2 linked regions of the Homo sapiens genome follow. The protein of the gene in region 1 interacts with the protein of each later gene in a biochemical or structural test. Each region holds a gene or a part of one and is shown in the gene's direction. Other genes may lie near its edges. The genes, in order: TAC4 and TACR1.

Region 1 (3,600 bases):
CCTCTCCTCATCTATGTTGGAGACACTTCCCATGATAGAGCAGAACCAGTACTGTGAAGTCAGACTTTGAATCTTGGCTCAGCCTCTTCCCGTGTGACCTTGGACAAGTCACTTAACCTCCTTACATCTCAGTTTCTCCATCTGTAAAATGCAGGGGCCGGGGGAAATCATAGTTTCTACTAGTTATGGTGGTTGTGAAGATTAAATGAGATTATGACTGCAGTGTTTCAGACCAGCCTTTGAGCCTGAGTTCAACTTCTGGTTCCACCTCTCACTTCCCAGCTGGGTGACCTTGGACAATTCTTTCTTTTTGAAATGGAGTCTTGCTCTGTCACCTAGGCTGGAGTGCAGGGGCAGGATCTTGGCTCACTGCAGCCTCTGCCTCCCAGGTTCAAGCAATTCTCCTGCCTCAGCCTCCTGAGTAGCTGGGATTACAGGTGTCTACCACCATGCCCAGCTAATTTTTGTATTTTTATTAGAGACGGGGTTTCACCATGTTGGCCAGGCTGGTCTCGAACTCCTGACCTCAAGCGACCCACCCATCTCGGCCTCCCAGAGTGCCGGGATTACAGGTGTGAGCCACTGCGCCCAGCTGAACAATTCTTTAACCTGTGTCTCGGTGTTTTCATGTGTAAAATGACAGTAACAGTACTTAGGGTACTGTTTTCCTGGTGTTTTGGTGAGGTTTAAATTAGTTACTAGATCAACGTGCTCAGAACATAGTAGGTGAAATGTTAGCTATTATTACAAAGATGTGCAGTACTGTGTAAAATATGCTGAGGTGCCCAGTGCCAGTGCACAGCAAGTCTCTGCTGACCACCAGCTGTCACTCCTGAGATTGCCATTGCCCAGGCTGGCCTCCCGTCTGCTGGACAACCTCCCAACTCTAACACTAACTCTCTGCTTCTTCAGGAAGGCGCTGGCCCCAGCATTCAGCTCCAGCTGCAGGAGGTGAAGACGGGCAAGGCAAGCCAGTTCTTTGGGCTGATGGGGAAGCGAGTGGGAGGTGAGTGACAATGACAATGGAGCCCAGCAAGCAGGGGTTCTGAGTGGGTTCTGCAACATAAAGCAGAGGCCCTAAGTCAAAGCCCAGTAACTGGGGTCAGGTACTCCAGTCCAGTAGGGGTCGCTCATGAGATGGGGTGGCACAGACTGTCCATAGGAATTATCATCCAGGCTGGGGGGCAGTGGCTCATGTCTGTAATCCCAGCACTTTGGCAGGCCGAGGTGGGTACATCACTTAAGGTCAGGAGTTTGAGACCAGCCTGACCAACATGGTGAAACCCCATCTCTATTAAAAATACAAAAATTAGACAGACATGGTGGCACGTGCCTGTAATCCCAGCTACTCAGGAGGCTGAGGCAGTAGAATTGCTTGAACCTGGGAGGCAGAGGTTGCAGTGAGCCAAGATCATGCCACTACACTCCAGCCTGGGCGACAAAGCGAGACTCCATCTCAAAAAAAGAAATTAGCATGCAACCAGGACACTTTGGGGAGTGTTAGTAATTACGCCAGGCAACAAGTGTAAACAAGGCTGTTCCCAACAATGGGGAGCACGGGCACCTGAAGGGTGGGGGCACAGGCTCTGCACCCTGAGTGGTGCCTTCCATGCTCTGGATGACTCTGGGGAGTGGCAGTGAAGCTAGAGACCAGTCTGGATGTGGGCAAAGCCACAAGCCAAGCTTTCTAGTCAATTTTCTTTGGCTGAAACAAAATTACTAACTTAAACCTGTGTTCCCTGAAGGCACTTTCAACTCAGGAGTCCTGTCCTTGGGGGACCAGGAGAAAATACTCTGCACACAGAGCAGTTTTCTCTTATTGTCAATATTACATTTTTTAAGTGGTAATGCTCCGTGTTGGCTTGGTGTGAAAAAACTGGCACTTTTACACTGTCTATTTGGAGGACACGTTCGCAATATCCAGGCAAGTTGGAAATGTGCTTACCTTTCTGACCCAGAGTCTCGCTTTTCAGGCAGACATGCTGTTACTACATGAGCCCTGAGGGTATTCACTGCCAACATGCTTGTAATAGCAAGAATTCGGAAATAACATAAACACCATCAATCAGGGAATGGTCAAAATCTATTACACGTATCCTTAACCCTTGTGGCCATTAAAGAGAATGAGGCAGACCCATAGAAAGATGTGGAAAGATCTCCAAGATACATGGTTAAGTGGGAAAAAGCATGTTACAGATCAATATTCAAGAGGAGCCTACTTGTTTTTAAAAAACGACATACACACAGATATGCAAATGCATGGGGAAAGTTCTAGAAGGATAAATATCAAACTGTAAACAGTGGTTACTTCAAGGACAGAAGTGGAGATGAGGGGGGAGAAAGGGAAGAGAGACTTTAAATTTTACTTGTACAAACCTTTTCAAAATAGTGGATGTATTCAAGGACTGCTTTTGTAATAAAAAAAAAATACACATATAAAAATAGAGAAAACCAACTTGTGACCAAGCACTTTTGGCCTTAGTTTCCTCTTCTACAAAATGAGTTCTGAACTGAGCCATTTCAAACTTCTTTTTTTTTTTGAGATGGAGTCTTACACTGTCACCCGGGCTGGAGTGCAATGGCGCAATCTCAGCTCACTACAACCTCTGCCTCCCGGGTTCAAGCAATTCTCCTGCCTCAGCCTCCCAAGTAGTTGAGATTACAGGCATCAGCCACCATGCCTGGCTAATTTTTTGTATTTTTAGTAGAGATGGGGTTTCACTATGTTGGCCGGGCTGGTCTCGAATTCCTGACCTCGTGATTCGCCCACCTCAGACTCCCAAAGTGCTGGGATTACAGGTGTGAGCCAACGCGCCCGGCCCATTTCAAACTTCTTTTCCAAATCCAACAACTCATGAAGGATGGGGGATGGGAATGTCAGAGAAAATACTTCTTGAGCACCTACTATGAGGCTGAGGTGGGAAGATCATGAGGTCAGGAGATCGAGACCATCCTGGCTAATGTGGTGAAACCCCATCTCTACTAAAAATACAAAAAAATTAGCCGGGCGTGGTGGCGGGCGCCTGTAGTCCTGGCTACTCGGGAGGCTGAGGCAGGAGAATGGCGTGAACCTGGGAGGCGGAGCTTGCAGTGAGCCGAGATCGCACCACTGCACTCCAGCCTGGGCGACAGAGTGAGACTCTCAAAAAAAAAAAAAAAAAAAAAAAAGATTAAATCTCCACAATAATATCCCCCTTATCACAAGCGGGGAAACTAAGGCTCAGATAGGTTAAGCACTTTTCCCAAGGATGCCCACCCAGCTGGCACCAGGTGCCAGTGACCCCAAAGTCTGTGCACTTCCAGCCACTCCACACTGCCCCCTACCAGCACATTCCTACTGCCACAGAGGATAACTGGGGATGACTAGAATTCTACTGAAGACCCACCAATGCACCAACCCTCAAAGAACTGGAGCCTTTTCCACCTCACCAAGCCCCCAGGGAAGCAGTGCAGTCCGTAGTCCTCATTCCTTCTCCTTCCCCCAGGAAGACCTCTGATCCAGCCAAGGAGAAAAAAAGGTAAGTATTGCCCAAACCTGCCTTCAACATGCCCCCTAGGGAGGGCTGAGTTGTCCTCAGCACAAACAAACCAGGTGGGTGA
Region 2 (4,128 bases), on another chromosome or scaffold:
ACTGTAACACATTTTAGCTGAAATTAAGCCCATTTTTTTTGTTGTTTTCAAATAAATAACAATAACTTTTGCTTCTTTAAAAAGGGAGGGATTTTTTAAAGGCTGATAAATTATGTTTACGTATTTATCTTTGCATGTTCATAATGATCTGATCTGTGATTTCACAAAGGGAAAGAGCAGATTGTATTTTGTATTCAGGTATGGTGTGGCCAACAGATCAGGACATGGTTACCACTGAAAGACACTTTATTACTCACAGTTCCCAAGCTGAAGGGCCATGGCCCCACACCAAGCCAAGCCACACAGGAAAGCCTTTATTGGGGTTTTCTCAGGAAGGAGCAGGCAAGGCCGGGTAAACAGGTTTAAGATTGGCTGGTTTGAATAACTTCGGCAGGCTCCGGGGTGTAGGAGCTGCCCCTAGTTGTCTGATGCCTGCCGTTGGGTGATTAGGGCGGGAAAATAGTGTCCTACCCTGTAAGAGCCCAAGAAAGCAAGCAAGTGGAAGTATGGGCTTTGTTTCGGTTAGTTTGCATATGAAAGGCATCCAAGTGGAAAGTTGTTTGTTTTCCAAAGGAATTAGCTCTGCCTGAAACAGTCCCTCCCTGAGCTGCAGGGACCCAGATGCCAAAGTATCAGATACAGAACCAGAAAACACAGTTAATACACACTTGAATAAAGTCATTAAATCACGGACAACAATGGAGTCCCAATAGACTTGCATACCTAAGGTCTGAAACAGTTCTCAGTGCTAGATGTCTATTACAGTAACTTGGGGGAAGTTTCTAAAATGTAATTTCCTGCTCCCAACCTCAAGTCAATTGAATGAATACCTTTGGGCACTGATCATTTTAAAAGTTTCCCTGGTGATTCTCTTTTACATTTGCGGTTGAGAACCGTTGGCCTAAGACAATGTTTCTCAAAGTCTGAACCACAAACAGCAACATCGGCATCTCTTGAGAACTTGTTAGAAATGCAAATTCTCAGGCCCACCCCAGCCCTGCTGAGTCTGAAACTCTGGGTGGGACCCAGCCCTGTGGGGTTGTCGAAGCCCTCCAGGTGATACTGAAGCCCACTCGAGTTTGAGGGCCACTGGTCCAGGGTAAGGAGTATCGGCGAGTTGACCATAGTGTCCCTCCCATCACACTCAGACCCAATCTTGCTCAGTGCCCTGTAGCAATGTCTCGGCAAAGCTCAGCTAACATGTTTTGGTCACAAACTATTAGTCTGCATGAGGCAGGGCTGTTCTTTCAGGTAGGAGAAGTCAGTGCAATTTGGAGGTTTTCAAGTTCTCCCTGCCCCTGTAGTCTCCAAACATTTTGCTTACAAGCAATGCCATTACAGCAACCAGGAGGGACTGAGATCAGCTAGGAAACACAATATGCTGTCCCTGCCATAGTGGTTGGAGAGCCCTGAGGCTCCCAAAGGAGGCGACAATTCAGAGGGCTTTGAAAGCCAGGTGAGACTGGAGCAGCCTGTCTGCACAGAACACATGCACTCACACCCTGCTTGGTGCAATCTGTGATTTGTCACTTAAGCAGTCTTTGAGTATCTTCAAATGCAAATTTGATATGCAGAGGGACTGAATAAGTAGCAAAAACTGTGGGGCTTTACAAAGAAGTGATTAAAAGCAAACAGTATCTACAAAGGAGAAATTGAGTGAATAAGTGGGTTTTCCTCATTGGAAGAAAATCATTGCATAAAATAATCATGAATGGTAAACAGAGGGGAAGAAAAAAATCATTGGGTGGCTTTTCTCCATTGACAAAAGGCTGGTTTTCTGACATCACAGACCTGGATTCTAATCTCAGCTCCTCCCTTTACCAGCTGTGAATTTGGGAAAATTAATTAAATTCTAAATGTGGTTTCCTCGTCTACAAAATGGGATTCATAGTACCTACCCAATCATTTGCTTAAGGATTAAATAAGATAATGCTAGTAAAATGCTTGGCTTTGTGCTTTTCATCAACACTCAAATTTAACTACCATTTCTGCTATTAATACTATCATTAGCATTATTATTAGCACAGTGACCTAGAGTAAGTGCCCCCAAACATTAGCTGTTCTTCCTAGTATTATTATTATTATTATTAGGAATTCTGAGTATCTCCATTATACTCACATCTAAGAAAAGGGCTGTAACTAACCAGACAAACCAAGGACCCCCAAACCCCCAAGAAAAATATATTTTCCCAAAATTCAAAAACCTTATTTAAGTCTGAAAAGGAGCCTTCCCTTTAACAGAAAAGGATAAATTGTGCTGCTGTAACAAACCTCAATATCTCAGTGGCTTAACACCACAAAGGTTTATTTCTTGCTCATGTCCCAGTCAAACGTGAGTCAGTTGGCACCTGTCCTCCAATGGGTAATTCAGGGACCCAGGCAGCTTCTATCTGAAGATATATTCTTAAAGCCCAGTCTTAGAAATGGCTTATGCTATGTGGCTTTCACCCACCCACTAATTCTAGTTCTAGGATTACTCTTATCTCTCTCATTCAGGCTAATTATTCTGATACCGATAAATTCACTTATCACATAGCATAAACTGGGCCTTATCAACCATCATGGTAGTTCTCAACTGAACGTACTAGTTGGTCTACAACCCTGCACTAAGTTGAGCATAAGTGTAGTCTGGCGGGTATGAATTGAGTGGTATAATTACTTCCTTCATTCAGAGACTATACTTCTATTAATGTAGCCTGAGTTTGCATTCTTGTTTTGGGGGGTGGTGTGGGGCAAGTGATATTGAACTGATCATCAACTGAAATCGCTATGGGTATACAACAGATTCAGTGCCCTGTCATCAATGTTTTCTTTTTTTTTAATCTGAACAGGAGTATTCATTATGGAAAAAGTCCACAAGAAAAACATAAATTGTTTTCTGTAGTGTATTCATTAGTATTACCTATCCACCCTATGCAGGTGACAAGTCTCCCTGGAGTGGGCTTTACAGCCCAAGCTTATTAATGGCATATGCTGAGAAAGGTAGCTGCCAAACCTTGACTGCAATAACAATAACAAAAATTAAAAACCTAAAATAATAAGTATATCATACTGACCTTTCCTGTTTACCTTGCTGTAGGTACCACATCTGTGTGACTGTGCTGATCTACTTCCTCCCCCTGCTGGTGATTGGCTATGCATACACCGTAGTGGGAATCACACTATGGGCCAGTGAGATCCCCGGGGACTCCTCTGACCGCTACCACGAGCAAGTCTCTGCCAAGCGCAAGGTGAGCAGGGGACAGGCAGAACTAACCCACCCTGGCACAGACAACAGGCTGTCGAGAAGGGATGGCACACTTGTGAGCCCCAGAGGCAGCTAGCACAAAATATCCCCAGGTATGGGGAGCAACAGAGAGGAGGAGAGGAATCTTTCTTCAGTGTCTTTGGAACCCAGATCTGGCTGGACAGGCATGAGCCACTTCGCTTGCTCTTAAAGAGTAATTGCAACCTCTTGATCCATTAAAACACACACACACACACGCACACTTAAATAAAAGATCAGTGAAGAGTGATTTGGTCCTCTTCTTAAAGTTTGACAAGATAATACATTCACGTGGTTCAAACATCAAAAGGCATTCAAAGGAACAAAATTATAGTGATGAAGAACGGATCAGGGGTTTCCAGGAGTCAGTGTTTGAGGGGGCTTGGGAGGAGTGGCCTACAAAGCGAGAGCGTGAGTGAGTTTCTTTGCAGTGATGGAGCAGCTCTGTATCCTGACTGTGGTGGTGTTTTCATCTATACCTGTGATGAAATTTCATAAATCTATACACCAAAAAAAACAGTGCATGTAAAAACTGGCAAAAACCCAAATATAGTCAGTAGTTTGATGAATGGTCAGTGTCCTGGTTTTGATAATGTGGTATGGTTATGTAAGATGATATCATTGGAGGAGGCTAGGTGAAGACTACCTGGAACTGCTTTGCACCACCTTTGCAACTTCTCGAGGGCCTTCAATTAGTTCAAAACGAAACATTTAAAAAAATTTAATTCTTATCATGGAAAGCCTCTCTCCCTTCTAGATCTGTCATCTACCCAGGTCCCAAGCTTGCACACACACACGCACACACACACACAGATATGCATACAATGGTAACCATTGTTATCTGTTTCTTAACCCTTCTAGCT

The links.
Region 2: the proteins of TAC4 (region 1) and TACR1 form a complex in vitro, tested with the Homo sapiens proteins (one study listed by BioGRID).

What each region holds. Positions count from the first base shown.
Region 1 is NC_000017.11:49,841,470-49,845,069, reverse strand, and holds part of TAC4 (tachykinin-4 isoform alpha-2 precursor), read left to right. Parts: intron 1-912; coding exon 913-1,006; intron 1,007-3,485; coding exon 3,486-3,518; intron 3,519-3,600. UniProt on the Homo sapiens protein: Tachykinins are active peptides which excite neurons, evoke behavioral responses, are potent vasodilators and secretagogues, and contract (directly or indirectly) many smooth muscles.
Region 2 is NC_000002.12:75,052,707-75,056,834, reverse strand, and holds part of TACR1 (substance-P receptor), read left to right. Parts: intron 1-3,079; coding exon 3,080-3,230; intron 3,231-4,128. UniProt on the Homo sapiens protein: This is a receptor for the tachykinin neuropeptide substance P. It is probably associated with G proteins that activate a phosphatidylinositol-calcium second messenger system.